Regions from separate parts of the Homo sapiens genome. Here region 1 is linked to region 2. The links come from fine-mapping of genetic effects on gene expression. A gene starts in region 2. The other region holds a variant in brackets. All regions are shown on one strand. Distances are between the middles of the regions. Region 1 overlaps ZMYM4 (zinc finger MYM-type containing 4). Region 2 holds the start of TFAP2E (transcription factor AP-2 epsilon).

The links. PIP is the estimated chance that this variant, and not a neighbour inherited with it, causes the effect.
Region 1: its variant is fine-mapped to the expression of TFAP2E in stomach (GTEx, PIP 0.99).

The regions. Positions count from the first base shown.
Region 1 is chr1:35,414,063-35,422,389 of GRCh38, reverse strand. It overlaps ZMYM4 (zinc finger MYM-type containing 4), which reads right to left. Exons shown (of 30, transcript NM_005095.3): 27 at 8,307-8,327; 28 at 6,676-6,924; 29 at 3,818-3,947; 30 at 332-2,920. The coding sequence ends at 2,713. Among named protein-coding and RNA genes, the nearest start is that of ZMYM4-AS1, 52 kb to the right of the region's middle. The variant C/T (reference allele first, on the strand shown) is at 4,029.
Region 2 is chr1:35,569,466-35,577,792 of GRCh38, reverse strand. TFAP2E (transcription factor AP-2 epsilon) reads right to left here and starts at 4,479. Exons shown (of 7, transcript NM_178548.4): 1 at 4,189-4,479; 2 at 3,384-3,866; 3 at 2,793-2,844. The coding sequence starts at 4,215. It overlaps TFAP2E-AS1 (TFAP2E antisense RNA 1), which reads left to right. Exons shown (of 3, transcript NR_183387.1): 1 at 1-1,127; 2 at 3,095-3,433; 3 at 7,874-7,982. RefSeq lists enhancers at 33-102, 283-372, 1-477, 478-1,330, 3,028-3,774 and 2 more and a silencer at 7,475-7,576.

The DNA.
Region 1 (8,327 bases), 160 kb after region 2:
AATACCAAGACAACTCTGAAGTCGAAGGAAAATGCTATTTAGTCTTACATTCCTGTTTTAAACATGTATTTATACTTAAGAATGAACATATCCTTTATTCTAGTCTTACAATTTCATTAAAGTTGAACTGATGTAGGCTTTGTAAATCTCAAAAAAGTTTGCCTGAAATGATATGTATAAATGATCTCTGATATTTCTACCTGTTGGGACTTTGAATATAGTCAGTAAATTAGCTAAAAATGGGAACAAGTCTTTTGATGGAAAAAAGGAAATAAAAGAACTTGCAATGAAAAAATATGTTGACTGGACTACATAAAAAAAATTTCTTTCTCGGAAACTGCTCTCTTTCTTTGTAATTTTACTAATTGCTGGGTCATACCAATAAGGTCAATCAGAAAAAGAGATTTCAAATTCTTTTAAGACGTAAAGAAGAAGAACTCACCCATCAAATACAAATATACTATTTTATTCTAAGGGAATATTTCTGTGGTTTCTGTAAGGGGAAAACCTAAAAGTGGTTAAAAACTGAAAAAGAACAAAAAGGATGATTTAGATGTTTTTGTTTGATGTTTTTTTCTCCCCTGGAAAAAAAATGTAATTTTACACAATTTTCATAAAATTAAAAAAGCAATAATCAGACGCACACATCAACAGCTACACTTATGAGGAATGACCAATAATTAATCAATATTTTCTCTTATGAATAAATTTAGGGTTCTGGGCAACTCTGTGGACTAACATGCAAATGAAATCCTGATACAGTCATTTATCTGGGTATTGGGTGTTCTCAGTAAAAGATACAGATTTTTTTTTCTGGTATTTCATAACAATTTATCTACTATGCTAACAATATTTGTTTTTTCATACAACTACAGAAGGGGAAAATGTTAGTGTTTATACAAACCATAAAATTCGTATAGTGGGGACTATTACACTTGCTATTTCTGGATAGTTTATTGGCAGACTTATCAGACAATCCAATTATTTGTCCTCCATATCGAACAAGGTATGGAGTAAGAAGTTTTCCAGTCAGAAATGACAAACACAGATGGAATTAATCATACAGAATCGGGGTGGATTTACTTCTTTCATACAGTTCTTGGTAACAAAAATGAGATTTGTTACAGGCAGAGGGACAGAACCACCAAGTACACAATGTCAGAAGGCCTACTTTTTTCATTTTAGTTTTACTTAAATGCCTTTTATTTGTTAAAAAAGAAATACACCTGCCACCCCCACCTAAAAAATGAGATACCCTGAAAAGTCTTTCAAGATTAAAATTTCTAAGAGGCTTTTTGACATCTCTCAGTTTTATCATAGCGTCAAATTAACCTTAGCTGAAGAAGTTCTGCAATTGGCAAACGTCATAAAAGCTTTGATTCCAAATTTTGTGGGGAAGAAACTGAGAATGGAGATGAGGGAGATGGACTGATATGCCACACACACCTATGACTTGCAATCCTCATAGAACTACTGAAACAGCTAGAGTTTGGAATAATGCTCTAAGACCTGCTTATGGATATGCAAGACAATGTCTTTGTATCCTCACCCCAGAATCCCTATTTTCAAGTTTCAAGGGCAACAAGGTCATCTTCCAAATGCTTTATATAGGAACCTAACTAGGACCTTTTCTATCATAATTCAGATAGCTAAGTAATACTGTATCTTTGTGGAATCACTCACAGGTTTGCCAGAGTAAGAAAAGAGACTATCCTTTTTGAAATGACAAGGGCCTCCAGAAACTGGTGCAAAAGACAAAATAAGAGGAACTGTTTGGGAAATAGGAAGGTAAAACAACGGGAGAAAAGCTGCCATTGGGGAAAAAAAATGAAAATAAAAGGAGAACCCCCATTTCTCTGTACCACAGCTCAGGCTGTGAGACAGCTGCAATAAGGGCCCACACCCAGAGAAGGGGCATTTTAGTGGGTTTCTACAAACATTTCAAGACACTTGGGGTCTGATAGGCTCCACAGATTTTCTGTGTGCATAATTAGTTTGTGGAATATCATCCCCTTTACCTTAGTTTACCCACATCCAGACCCACCGCTGAGAAGGCTTGATCCAGAAAATGAAAGGGACACATTACTGTTAACAGCAGTGAAGGTCATTTTCCCTGATGTGAGGGGCCCATGGCAAAAGCTTCTGTCCTTCACATGATTGGCTTGGCAGTGAAAATCAAAATCAATCAAGACCACTTCACTATCTTTTTTAAAAAGTTGAGTATTTTTATTGGGTCTTCAAATCTGGGTCCCACAGTCCTCATTTGATGTCACTCTTAGCTCTGTACTGATCTCTCCTCTGACTTTTACGGAGGGCTTGCCAAAGTAGCCTATTGCAGCCAAAGTTTCACTCCAAAGCTACCTCTCTAAGGTCTAAGGTTACTATGGTAAAGTTTTATACAACAGTTTTCCTTAAAAATATTCCACGATTTGTTACTCCCAAACAAAATAAGATTATGCACCACTCGGAGAAATTAGTCATTCTGAAGATGTCTAAGAACTATATCACTGCCAAAGAACATTTCTCAGTTCATATTCTTTCCTTCAATTTTCATTTGCACATCCACACTGTGGGGTTCACAAGTCATCTGTTTTCCATGATCTTATGGTCAAGTCAAGAGGACTTAGACTTATACATCATTTTCCAACAGCTGGATGCATTCACAGTTTGGTGCATACCAATATGTATGAAAATAAGAACCTCACTTCCGTTTTAATCTGATAATTCAACATCAGAGTCTTCAGATTTGGCTTTGGCAAGTTCTTCATGTACCTCCCTCACCATGAGAATACGTGTTAACATGGTGTCCAGGGTTCCAGGGTCTATCGGGAATGTGGAGTACCACATGGGGCTATTCGGGACACAGGAGCGCTCAGGTTGAAGGTAAAACACATCATTCCTTTGCTTCACACTTTCAGAACTATCCACAGGGGAAAAAAAAAAAGAGAAAAAAGAAAATTAGAAATCAGAGAGTATAGGAAATATGTACTATTCTTAAGTAAACTGAGGTTTTTGCCATTAAAAGTAATTAAAAGTAAGGGCAAAAACTGCAATTATTTTTGCACCAACCTAATATGGCTCTCAACCTTTCTCCACTGTGACTCACAATGGGGAAAGCAAGGTACCCACAGAGATAAATAGTTTACAGGAATATTTCCTCCCAGGAATCAACTGAAATCACAATGGATTGGAAGTGAGTATAAAGTTAATATAAGACAAAGTGTAAATCATAAACTTTAGTACTTCAAACATTATTAAGAGCAACAAAAAAGTCAACTCACATGTGACACTATGGCCAAGCACCACATATTGGAAGTGCCCAATATCCTGGAATGAACTCCAAGGGCACTCAATACACATTATCAAAGGGCAAATGAAGCTATTACATTTCTTTCAGAAAAAAAAGTGTTACAACTCTAAAATCATAAAGTTCCTCTAAGAAAAGGACTACTTAGAAAATTTCAATTCCTTAAAAATTGTTTTTCTATTATAGCTTTAGCAAAACAAAATTTCTTTTCTATACAAATAACAAAATAACTACAGATTAGGTATCACATAAAGGTTGTACAACAGTTGTAAAGATCAAACAATAGCAGTGATTCTTGCTTTTGAAGACATTTTCATAAAATAATTATGAAGACAAGGTAATTTGTTTTGTGGTTCAAAATCCACATAGATATGACAATGGGGAAAAAATTCATGGTAAATCCTTGTCTAAAGCCACGGGCAAGCTACTTTTCTGATGTTCAAGCATCTGAAATCCAAAATATGTTAACTGCCTTCTGAGTGCACTACATTCAGTTCAGAGAAAGATTACCATTTTGACAGGTAAAACTCATAAAGTCGGACTGGGCATCTTAGTGGATTGTCAGTATTCTCTGCCATCTCCACCCCCACTGGAACCTCATCATCTTCATTTCGTTTCCTCTTGCCAACAGTCAGTTTATCTTGAGACAGGAAATAATAATCAAAGGATTATATTAGAAAAGTCTATTCTTTGAGTCTCAAGACACCAATGAGCTTTGCTT[C/T]GCAGCCAGAACTTTGTCATTTCCTCCCTTTCACTCACTCACACTCATTCAACAAATACTGAGTGCCTATGAAGGTGCCAGACATTATTTTAAGTGCTGGATTCTATGGCATTAAACAAAGTCCCTATCCCATGAATTTTATGCTCCCCTGCTCACCAAAGTGGGGGCACCATGACAAAAAGTATGGCACTGGCACTGGAAAACGTCTCTATTCTGAGCCTGACTTTATTAATAAACTTCATTAGGCACAGGGTTCCTGAGACATATCAAGATAAAGCAGAAAGAAGGGTTCCACATGTTTTTCTCCTACAGTAGAGATCAAGACAGAAGTTGCCATCTCTTTTTTTTTTTTTGAGACGGAACTTTGCTCTTCTTGCCCAGGACGGAGTGCAACGGCGAAATCTCCGCTCACTGCAGCCTCCACCCAGGTTCAAGGATTCTCCTGCCTCAGCCTCCCAAGTAGCTGGGATTACAGGCGCCTGCCACCATGCCCAGCTAATTTTTTTGTATTTTTAGTAGAGACAGGTTTTCACCATGTTGGCCAGTCTGGTCTCGAACTCCTGACCTCAGGTGATCAGCCCACCTCGGCCTCCCAAAGTGCTGGGATTACAGGCATGAACCACCGTGCCCGGTCGCCATCTCTCTTTTAAGAGACAGGGTCTCACTCTGTTGCCCAGCCTGGAGCATGATGGTGTGATCACAGCAGCCTTGAATCTCCGCAGCCTTGAACTCCTGGGTTCAAGTGATCCTCTTGCCACAGCCTTTGGAGTAGCTGGGACTACAGGTACAAGCCACTGAACTCAGCAGAAGCTGTCATCTCTATGAGAATATTTCTACTGTGGGGCACTAGTACTGGGCATCTGCTCAAGTTTATTTGTTCGAATATTGTGAGAAATGGCATCTTTGTTGGGAAGAGAAATTATCAGCAGAGTTACTATTTGGTAAGAAAAGAACAAACCATTTTTCCCCAACAGTATTTTGCAGAGGCCAAGCATTATATAAGGAAGTCAGGGTGAAGATACGGAAAGTGGGCTATTTCTTTCCCACTTTTTCCATTCACTCCTCAAGAGAACACTAGATGGACCTAAGGAAAAAAGGTTTTCTTTCTTTTTTTTTTTTTTTTGGGAGACAGGGTCTCACTCTGTTGCCCAGGCTAGAGTGCAGTGACTCCATCACAGCTCACTACAGCCTCAAACTCCTGGGGTCAAGCAATCCTCCCGCATGAGCCTCCCAAAATATTGGGATTACAAGCATGAGCCATTGCACTCAGCCTATATCTGCTCTTAACAACCGGTATAGGACTTTCCCCAGCTTCCTGCATTATTACTTTAACAAAACTCACCCATTTTCCATTTAGCAGCTAGCTAAATAGAAAGACTTTGCTAGTTACTCACTTAGAAAGCAAGCTGAATTCACTACTAATCATGTCAAGCACCCAATCAGCAAACAGGGAAACATTATCCACCTGCCTTTCCCTCCCCCAGTTAATACCAACTGAGGCCAGGCATGGTGGCTCACGCCTGTAATCCCAGCACTTTGAGAGGCCGAGGCGGGTGGATCACCTGAGGTCAGGAGTTCGAGACCAGCTTGCCCAATATGGTGAAACCCCGTCTCTATTAAAAATACAAAAATTAGCCAGGCGTGGTAGCACATGCCTGTAGTCCCAGCTACTTGGGAGGCTGAGGCAGGAGAATTGCTTGAACCTGGGAGGCGAAGTCTGCAGTGAGCTGAGATCACACCACTGCACTCCAACCTGGGTGACAGAGTGAGACTTCATCTCAAAATAAATAAATAAATAAATAAAAATCAATTGAGAGCACAAAGTGGGTTACATATATATAAAACTAAGCAAACAGGACACAGACATTAGGTGAAAAAGATAATCTTAGTAAATGAACAATTCAGAAAAAAGTTTATACAAAGTTGAACATCACAAATACAGATTTTAGTTTCAGTGATTTAAATTCTCACATTCAAAAAATGTATTTCACTCTCAGAAACTGATTTTGGGAAGTTCAGGACTTATGATTCTATTCAAAAAATAATAAATTTAATTTCTAATCCTATAATACCAAGATTAAGTTTCTGAACATTAAAAACAAACTTATTTAATAGGCTGTTTTTGAAATGCAAGACAATAAACCTTCTAATAAAATTGTCACTGCTATTATTCTATTGTGTACAAAAGCAGTATATTGTAGGTCAGCTTTTAAGTTCCTTCAGAATTTCACAATGTTAACTAAAAAGAGGGGCTCTGGTCAAAAAAAGATTTAGAAACAATGGACTAAAAGTTCTGCAGGTTTCGTTTAACTAGTGATTGACTCATCTGGGGCTAGTAAATTAGTGATTCTCAACCCTGTTTGTATTTTTTAATTTCCTGAGAAGTTTTAAAATGCAGGCTATTTGAGCTCTGCCCAATTAAATCAAAATTTCTAATTTAAAAGCCAATGAAAGTATATTGAAGCACGTGATTCCTCTCACTTTGAGGCCAGCCTTTGACCACTCTCTGACAATAGAGAAAAATATTCAAATGTTAAAGGTACACTCTTTCACGTCTAGCATTTATAATTACCTTTCTGCAGTAACTCTCTATTTTAGTACTACTACTAAGACTTCAAAGAGAAATCTGACAAACAGTATCCCGTACCTGGTTCTGACTCCTGCTTCTGTAAAGGTGGGAAGAACCTCAGATATGTCATCTTGGTACTGTACTTCAGAGTCCTGGTCCGTCTCATCACATGGGCAAAGGAAAGCTTCAAGTGCTCAGTAACATTCTTTAGTTGGAAGTATTTGGTATTGAAGAAAAGGAGGGTGTTTAAAAGGACGATTGGTGAGTAAGCGCCCAGCTGTTTGCACTCCCACAAATGCTCTTCCTCAATGCGAGAGAACATGTAACCTAGACAGAAGAAGGGGTACAAGAAACAGTACTGAGCTCCTGCTAAAGTAGACTAAGTAATCTCTCAAATTCTAAGACAGGGAGATATAAAGAGAAAAACTGACTATTCCTCTTTCCCCTCTTCCTTATGCAGAAAACCAGAAAACGCACCACAAAGAAAAAGGCAGATGATTCCACTCAAGTAGACACCGTTCGTGGAGTCTCCTGAAACCGTTTTAATCTATTGATATTTTAGATTAGGGGTTAAGCTGTCTTTATAAAGGGCCAGAAAGTAAATATTTTGGGATGTGTAGGCCATATAGGCTCTGAACAACGCTGTTGCTGTAGAAACTAAGGAGCTGTAGAGAACACATAAACAGGCAGAGCTATATGCCAGTAAAATTTATTTATAGTCATATAATTTTCTTTTCTTTTTTTTGAGACAGGGTCTTACTCTGTCACCCAGGCTGGAGTGCAGTGGCACGATCAGGGCTCACTGCAGCCTCAAACTCCTGGGCTCAGGTGCTTCTCCCACCTCATCCTCCTGAGTAGCTGGGACTACAAGGCACCACCACCATGCCCAGCTAATTTTTTTTATTTTTTGTAGAGACAGAGTTTCACCTTGTTGCCCAGGCTGATCTTGAACTCCTGGGCTCAAGTGATCCTCCTGCCTCAGCCTTCCAAAGTCACACCTGGGACCACAGGTGTGAGCCACCACACCCAGCCATGAATTTAATATAATTTTCACATGATGAAATAGGAATTCTTAAAAAAATTTCCCCAACTATTTAAAAATGTAAAAACAATTTTTAGCTCATAGATTGCAAAACAGGGAGCAGGCCAGATTTGGCCCATGGACCATAGTTTGCAAACTCCTGTTGGAGATCATTAAGCTTACTGTTAAAGGTGCTCTGCAGCCCAACAGAAAGGTGCATATATTACTAAGCATAACATTGAACCTCTTCATTCACCTCAGCCTGAGACCTGGAGTGAATTATGGACTTGTCTGATGACATCTGGTCAAAGATAATTCAAGGACGAGGACTTAACTCTCTTAACAACAGTTCAGTATACATACAAACTACCAAAAAAGGTCCACTGTTAGCAGATATGATATGTGAAAGCTACACCAATGCTACCAGATCAAAAATGGTTTCTAAAAAGGTAAATGTAACTTCAAATTAGTTTATATTTTCTGCAATCAGTATCTATACATGTGCTATATGACTTGTACAGTTTTCCTAAAACAATCAACAATAAACCAAAGACCGTCTCCTCAGAAGTCCAAATATGGTATAAATCTGGACAGAAATAAAAATGAACAATTTTTTTAAAGATAACCAAAAAAGTTAAGCAATTTAAGAAAGCATATCATGAAAACAATAAAAAAAAAATCACCCTACCATTAGGAAGTATTGTAGGTT
Region 2 (8,327 bases):
TTCGCCTGGCCGCCCCTCCCGGACGCTTGCCTGCAGTCAGCGAAGCTTTTCCAACCCAGGTCTGGGCCCTGCGAGCTCCAGGTGCCTCTGCCCCGCGGCGCTGGCGAAGTCGAAGCCCGAGAACGCCCACCGCAGCGATGCGAAGGCCGCTTCTGGGGTGGGGCTGAGGCTGCAGCTGCCTCCCTTTCGCACCAAGGACCCCAACCTTCAGCGACGCAGCCGCCGCTCCCGCCCAGGCTGGGAGGCACTGTAGGGATCCGACGCTTCAGGTGGCCAAAGAGCGACTTTCTCTGATTCCAGGGCCCTGGCGGGGCAGGCTCCAGTACCGCACTCGGCGGAGGCCGAAGGTCTGTGGGGCAGGACAGGAGTTCCTCGTGCCGTCGGAAGGGCCGAGGACGAAGGAGGGCGCTAATTCACTCCCCACTGGGCTGGCGGCAACGCCGAATCCCGCAGTGACCGCGGAGGGCCAAGGTGAAAACTGCTGGGGGCGCCGAGGGCAGGTGTGGGGAGGGGCGGCTCCAGGGAGCAAGGAGCCCACCTGCCTCGCCGCCGCAGCTGCCCTGGGTCGACCGCCCACGCTTTCCCCTGGGTCACGACCTCCGGATCCAACTGTGCCCGGCTCCTGCCCCTTCCCCTTTGCTGCTGCTGCGCGGGCTGTAACTTGACGTCTAGGCTGGGGCGTCCAGGGCGCAGTCTCCGCTCAGGTCGCCAGCGCTCCACTCGCTCCACTGGGCCACAGACCCGCTGGCGCTGGGGTCCCGCTGGCGCTGGGGTCCCGCTGGCGCTGGGGTCCCGCTGGCGCTGGGGTCCCGCTGGCGCTGGGGTCCCGCTGGCGCTGGGGTCCCGCTGGCGCTGGGGTCCCGCGGTTGTGCACGTGAGTCCGCGTGGCCCCGTCCCGCGCGGTTGTGCACGTGAGTCCGCGCGGCCGCGTCCCGCCCCGCTCCAGGGAGCCAGCGCGCCGCCACCTGGGATGTTAGGACTCTCGTTGTGTTCTTTGGACTGCTTTGGGGGATTTCGGCGTACCCCTAGGATCTAGGAGTTTTGGAAGTTGTTTGAGAGAAACCAGCTCTGGGAGGGCCTCGCATCCAGTCTCCTGTCTCGGCTTCGGACCGGGGTTCCGGGTTAAGGTGCTCAGAGGAACAGCTGATCCTTCTACCCTTGCGCAGGGCAGAGATCCCCAAACCTCTTTCTAAAATGCAGGGTCTTAGTCTTTCTCAGGGAGTCAGTGAACCTAGACTCCCAGTCTCTTGAGCCCAAGCATGAATAGGGAACTGGGGACCACCACCATGCTCATATTTCTGGTGGCCAGGAAGTCCAGGCAGGCTTTTGCCCACTGCAGACGGATCTCTTTCTTCAGGGGTCAAGAAAGGCTCTGTACAGTAAGCCAACCAAGCCCCACCAGCAGAGCTGCGCTGCAACCAGGTTCCTAGTGTCTTTCCCACACTCCCAGTTCCAAGCGACACAGGACACAGCCCCAATTCCACCTCCCCCCACCCACTTCCTGCCCTGTTGCCTCATCTTCCCTGCTACACACTCCAAGTCATCCACCCAACCCCCAGCTCCTGGTAACTCAGCCCCAGCTCCTGGAAGTCCAGCCCCAGCCCTGCTACCACCACTTCCACCTTGGCCTCCCCTGAGAACAAGTGGAGGGCAAATAGAGCCCAGGCTTGAATTCACTCGTTTGAAAAACAACTCAAGCCAAACCCTGTGGGAGCAGTGCCTGCCTGGGGCACCTCAGGCTCATGTGCACCTCTGAATTCTTTCGGGCACCTGCCCCAAATGTAAAGAGGCTGCTACCCAATGCCTGGGCCCCTCTGACTCTCTGCTCCTCTCTGGCTGTCTCTCTGTTTTTGTCGTCTCTCACCTTCCCCTGTCATGGCCAGTACTTGGTCCTCAGGCCAGAAAAGGTGGATCCCGTGTCCCTGGATTTTACTAATGCCAGGAGTCACATAAATACTCCTATATATACACAGAGAGGGCCCGCGCATGCTTGGAAATCCTCAGATACCAAAGAACAAAGTGCAGGACACAACAGAGATACTGTACATATTGAGAAATGTGTACATCCCCCAAATGCAGAGAAATGCACACCAACATACAGAGACACACCTCACAAACACATTCACAGAAACAGACACACTCACACTCCAAGAAATACTAAGACACCCATGAAGGGAACATTTCAGACATGCACAGGACCCTGAACTCACATGGACACAGACACCCAGGAGCAGGTGGGCCCTGACTCAGGTGCACACAGCCTAACACACAGTACTCACACACAAGCTCCCCTAAGTCTAAATGCCGCAAGAGACTCCCACAGAAAGAAAATTCCCCCAGAGGCCTCCAAGGCCCTGCCTGGAAGGAAGAGGAAGAAAGTGCCCGCCAGGCACCGAAATGCTAAGGCACTGTAAAGTGAAAATCATTTCCCCAACTCCGTGGGAACAGCACTTCCATTCCCATCTCTTAGGGAAACAGGGAAGTGGTTTAACTCGTTCTGCAAATCAACTCCAGATCCACAAGAGTGCCCTCCCCCTCGGCGGGGAGAGGCCAGGCTCCCAGTGCTGCAGCCCAGTGAATGCTGATCCGCTGAGGCCCACCCCAGGCCACAGGGTGCTGGGCAAACTCACCAAGCCCGCACGTCTGCCTAACATCTGGCTGGGCCAGGAAGAGTGCCTGGTGGACACCCAGCCTGGCGACACACAGGAGGCACGGCCGGTGAAGAAAATGGATCTGTGCACCAAGGGCCTGCACCATCTCGCCGGGCTCTGCCCTGACAGACCATTCCTTACCTTTCTTGATCACGGACTGGTCTAGGAGGCTCATTCCCGGCTCGTCCATTGCCTGCAAATAGCAGAGGGCAGCGGTGAGGGCGCATAAAGCCCTAGCCGCCCATGTCTTCCCAAGCCCCTGCCACCCAGGGTCTCTGTCTGCTCCGCCCAAGGCGCACCAGCTTCGCTTGGGGCGGCGACGGGCAGGCCCAGGAATCGCTATGTCCAGGCACTGAGCTGGAGCCCTGGGCATCTCACTGTGCAGTGCAAAAAGGGAATTTTGAATCTTACACTGGTAACTATTATGCTTCTCTTCGCCCCAGGTGCAGGCTGCCCCATGGATGCCACACGTGGCAGCGGGGAGAAAAGAAGTGATTCGGTCCCTGCCGAGGGTTGCTGCCACCCACGCACTGCTGGCGGACTCAGTGCCAGGCAGCCTTGATGGCCAGGCAACGTCTAACCCAGGAGGTGGGACACATCCTCGGAGTCACCAGTGAGATGTGGCGAGCTGGGAGAAAAGTCGGCTTCCTGCATTTGTCACCTTCTGCCTCCAGCCATGGTAGTAAACCACCGCGGCCAGTCCCGACCCATCCCGGATCCCTCGGGTCTCACCTGCAGGTCCTCCAGACCGGGGGCCGCCGCCAGCCCCGGAAGGCCGAGAGGTGCGTCTGCCAGGCCGTGCGCGCCGTCGGCCAGGCCGTGCAGGAGCCGGGGCACGGCAGTGGCATAGTCACGGCGCGGGTCAAGGCCCAGGGCGCGGGCGGGCGGTGCCAGCAGGCCGGGAGGCTCCTCGTGGGCGCGGGCGGCTGCGCGGGGCGCGGCCCAGGCGGCCTGAGGAGGCTGCGGCTGCGCCAGGGGCGCCAGGCCGCCATATGGGTCCCCTGCCAGGTGGGGAAAGGCTGCGGCGGCGTCGGGCGCCTGACCGTAGGGCAGCGGTGGCTGCGGGTAGGGCGGCGGGAAGTAGGGCGGCTGGAATTCGGCGGCAGCTGTGGCGGCCGGCGTGTGGCAGAGCGGGGGCGCCGGCCCGTAGGCCGCCTGGGGCAGAGACGACAGGCGGGCCCCGCCGGCAGCTGCTCCCAGCCCGTCGGGGCGCTCCTGGGGAAGGAGAGGGGTGCCTTAGGTGACCCACTGGCAGCTGAAAGGACCCCAGCCTGAAAGGATCCTCCTCAGCTCGGGAGGGTTCAGCTGCAGTCCCTCCCGTTTCTTGGGGCCCGAGGTTTATTTCCGAGCCACCCGCGGGCGCAGGAGCCTCAGGCTGGGGACAGCGGTCACTTGCGCATCGCGTTCTCAGCTGGCGAAGTCCCTGCGGCCCCCTCCCTCCGAGATTTCGTTAGCGCGGGACAGGAGGGTTGGAAAGTCCAGCACTCAGGCGCCCCGATCCCCCGGCCGAATATGTCCCGGGCCCGAGACTACTCACCATGGCGGAGTAGGTGTGCACCAGCATGGGGCGGTGAGTGCCGGGCGCGAGGCGTGGCGGCGGCGGAGCCCTAGCCCGACGGCGAGCGCTGCGGGCAGAGGCGCCGGGAGCCGGCACAGCCCGCGGAGGTCACGGTGCGGTAGCTGGGTGCGACCCAGCCGGGATCCTAGTGGGCGTGGGGTCCTCAGCGGTGGCCGTTCCCGGGCGGGTCCATGGAGGCAGGACGGACGGGCACTGATCGCACTTGGAAAAGTCGGTCAACGGGTGCCCAGCGCCCGCCCTTCCTCCTCTGAGCGTAGCCTGCTCCATGCACTCCAGTTATAGTGGCGGGGGCGCGCCGGGCCTCCGGGGGCGCGCATTAAAGAGACAAGCTATGGCAGTTCTCTCCCTTTTCCCCAGCGGCTGCCACAGGGGAGGCAGTGGCTTTGGCGGGATCGGGTAGGGTGGGTAGGGGGCGTGAATTCAGCCCACATTGATCAGAGCCGCCTTCTGGGCTCGCAGCTCGCAGCTGCAGTGAAACAGAAATATTCGAGGCTGGGACGCAAGGGCCCTACATTTGCCTGGCTCTATCACATCCTTGCCTTTAAGCAAAGCACTATTCTTCGCTGGCCTCAGCTTCCTCGGTAAAATAGGTATCAATCCTTTCTCTAAGCACCTCAAGAGACTTTGGATGAGGTGGGTAATCGGGAACGTGGAAGAAGTTTGTGAGCTGAAGACTCCAGCCTATCTGCTCATGCGCACACAGTGTCAGTGCGTGTGTTTAGGGGGTCTACCATCACAGTCTTTCCTGAATGGTTCTGGATCAAAATCCCTCGAAGGTGCCCACTTCGCTCTCAGGCTTCCTGGGCTGAAAACTTCCAAGCCAAGCCAGGCTCTGAGGGAGTTGGAGACAGAAGCTGGCCAGACAGAGAGAGAGACTTGCCTGGGATGGGTTTGGGTATGAGCTCCACCTGACAAGGGGCCAAGATATTTCTGAAGCCACAGGGTCCTGGGCTGATTGAGTGTGGGCATGAGATACCCAGAGACTGTTGAGTGACTGTGTGTAACTGACTAGCATGGATGCCGTGTGATTGTTACACTAACATGCGCAGGCTACATGTTCCTGTGTTACCATGGCAGGCACTCCCTGGCTGTCAAGCAAGTTCCAGTCTCTGTAGTCACTCTCTCTTTCTCCCCAAACCCAACCCTCCCCTCCTGACAAGCAGAGACAGGGATTAAAGATGGACAAATGAGAGGAATGCTAAGGAGAACAGGAATTAAGAAAGCAGAAGAAAGATGTTTTTTAAAAGCAAGATGTGCAGACCAGGGCAAAGTAGAAATAATCACAGCAGACTTATTACAGAATGTGCCAGCCTCTGTGCAAAGTGCTTCACGAATATTGGGTTCTTTAACCCTCACAGCAGCTCTATGAAAGAGATACCCATATCATCCCCATTTTCAGGGGAGGGGTGAGGCATGGAGAGGTTAAATGGCTTGCCCAAGGTCAAGCAGCTAAGTGGCAGAGCTGGGGTGATCTGCCCCTGGCCCCTCTCTGCTCAGAATCACTATTCTCTACTGCCTCAGACTCAGGGGCTTGGATTTAGTCCTGACTCTGCCTAACTGTGTGATCCTAGCTACATCCCGTTTCCTCTGTGATCTCAGTTTCTGCAACTTCGACAACACCAATAAAAAAGTAGGGGAAGGCAGAGAAGACTAGTTGTTTTTTTAGGTCCCTTTTTAGTGAAGTAGTAAATGAGAAGATTAAGGTAAAATTATTGATATAGAAGAGGAGGTGATAGTGACACCATTAACTCATGGAATATATGGTTCCAAGTGGGTATCCCAGAAGGCACATGGCAGGTGCAGAGCTCAGGGCTGGATGATCTCAGCCTGGGGAGTGGTGGGGAAAGAAGGAGGCTAGAAGCCAAGGATTCATCATTAAGAACTTTCTGAAGTCTGGAACCGCCAGCGAGGTTCCAGAGGATGAAGCGGAATTGGGAAGCTTTGCAACTTTCCTGCTCGAGATGGGTCAGAGATCAGGATTGTGTTTGTGTGTATCTATATATGAGGGAGTCTGTGGCAATGCCCTGTTCCTCCCTCCCTCAACCCCAGCCACAGGGCATCAGAAGTCAAGCTCCAGGACAGGTGTCAGTGCGTGAATAGAAATTGATGAACTCCTCTGGGAGAAGTCTAGGAGCCGCAAAGGAGATGATGCCTGTGCCCAGCTGCGGGGATGCCCCTGCTCTCTCCAGCAGCTTGGGAAGGCCAGAGTGGCGGGATGTGCTGCCTGTCTGTGGCTTCCTTGGGTTTTCTCAATCTACTTCCTACACCTTTGATAGCCCCTTTTTGCCTCATTGTCCTACTCCGACCATTTCTGTCTTCTTTTCTGTTTCTCTTTTCACCTACATGCTTAATGTCGGTAATTCTTTCTCAGAGCAGAGAAGCTTCTTTTTCTTCCTGCACTCTTCATGAGTGAGCTCATCCCCTCTCAAGTCTTTTTTTTTTTTTTTTTTATAACAGAGTCTCACTCTGTTGCTTGGGCTGGAGTGCAGTGGCACAATCTCGGCTCACTGCAACCTCCACCTCCCGGGTTCAAGCGATTCTCATGTCTCAGTTTCCTGAGTAACTGGGATTACAGGGGCCCACCACCACGCCCGGCTAACTTTTGTATTTTTACTAGAGACAGGGTTTCATCATGTCAGCCAGGCTGATCTCGAACTCCTGACTTCAAGTGAACACTCGCCTCAGCCTCCCAAAGTGCTGGGATTACAGGCATGAGTCACCACGCCCGGCCCAAGTCTTTAATGACTACCTGTCTACTGTTATCTCCCAACTGTGTTATCTCTGGCCTGAATCACTAGTGAGAGATCCAGACCCATAGACACAGCTGCCAGCTGCGTATTTTCTCCAGACATCTCATTGCAGCTGTCTGAAATTTTCCAAGTCCAACACTGAACTCAACATCTCCTCTATCCCCAGCACCAACCCCAACCTGCTTCTCCTTTGCTCTGTAGTTTCATAAATGACACCACCCTTTTTCAAGTTCAAAACTTGCTAGTCATCCCAGAAGAGCGTAGGTCCTTTCCTTAACCCCCACAAGCTAATCCTTATGGAGTGTTGCCATTTCTAACCCTTAAACATCCACCCACAGAAGGTATGTGGTGGAGAATTGAGGCAGGTATCCCAGAGGGCACATGGCACCCTGTCTCAGCACCTTAAACTACCTTACTCTTACTCATAGATCAGTGGCTCTCAAAGTGTGGTCCCTTGAGCCCAGGAGTTTGAGACCAGCCTGGGCAACACAGCCAAAGAGTGGTTCCTGGACCAGCATCACCAACAATATCTGGGAGCTTGCTAGAAGTCCCAATTCTTGGATCCCACTCATGACCTTCTGAGTCAATAACTCTGGGGGTGGAGCCCAGCAACCTGTGTTATTAATAAGTCCTTAAGGTGACTCAGAGGCACATTAAAGTTTAAGAACCACTATCTAGGCCATTGCAACAATTCTCTAACTGGTCTCCTGACTTTATTCATATCTCTTCTGATCAATTTCCAACTTCCACAAGAGTGACTGGACCATGTTACCTCCCTACTGAAAACTTTCCTAGGGCTCCCCATGACCCATCTTCGGGGGAAAAAAAGTTTAAACATTCTAATGAGCATTCCAGACTCTGCAGTTGTGACTAACTTACTTTTCCTCTTTCAGGAACTGCTTCACAAGATTAAAGGAGAAACAGAAAATGTATCTAGCGCTGTGCTTGGGGCATGGCAGGAACTCAATGAATGCTTATTAAATACTGTAAATGATAAACACATCAATGGATGGTGTTATGAATCCACTGGCCTATTAAGGGATCCTTTAGGAAGGCTCTATGTGAACATGATCCTGGGTATCTACACATAGAACCCAGGTATAATCTGAAGAGATCATCTGATAAGTGAGTGATTTTGATTATGGCTACTGGGGAGAGGGATGTTCTCCATGGTCTGCTGCTGCTTTGAGTCTCCCTAAAACATCAGAGTCCCATGATTTCAGACTCAGGACTACTTCTTTCAGTGCCAAGGGACTCCTCACTCTCTGAGGCATGGAGGTGGAGATTTCTGGTTGTCTGCTCCCTGGGACACATGCACACATGTGGAGGCCTGGGGTGCAGTGGGGT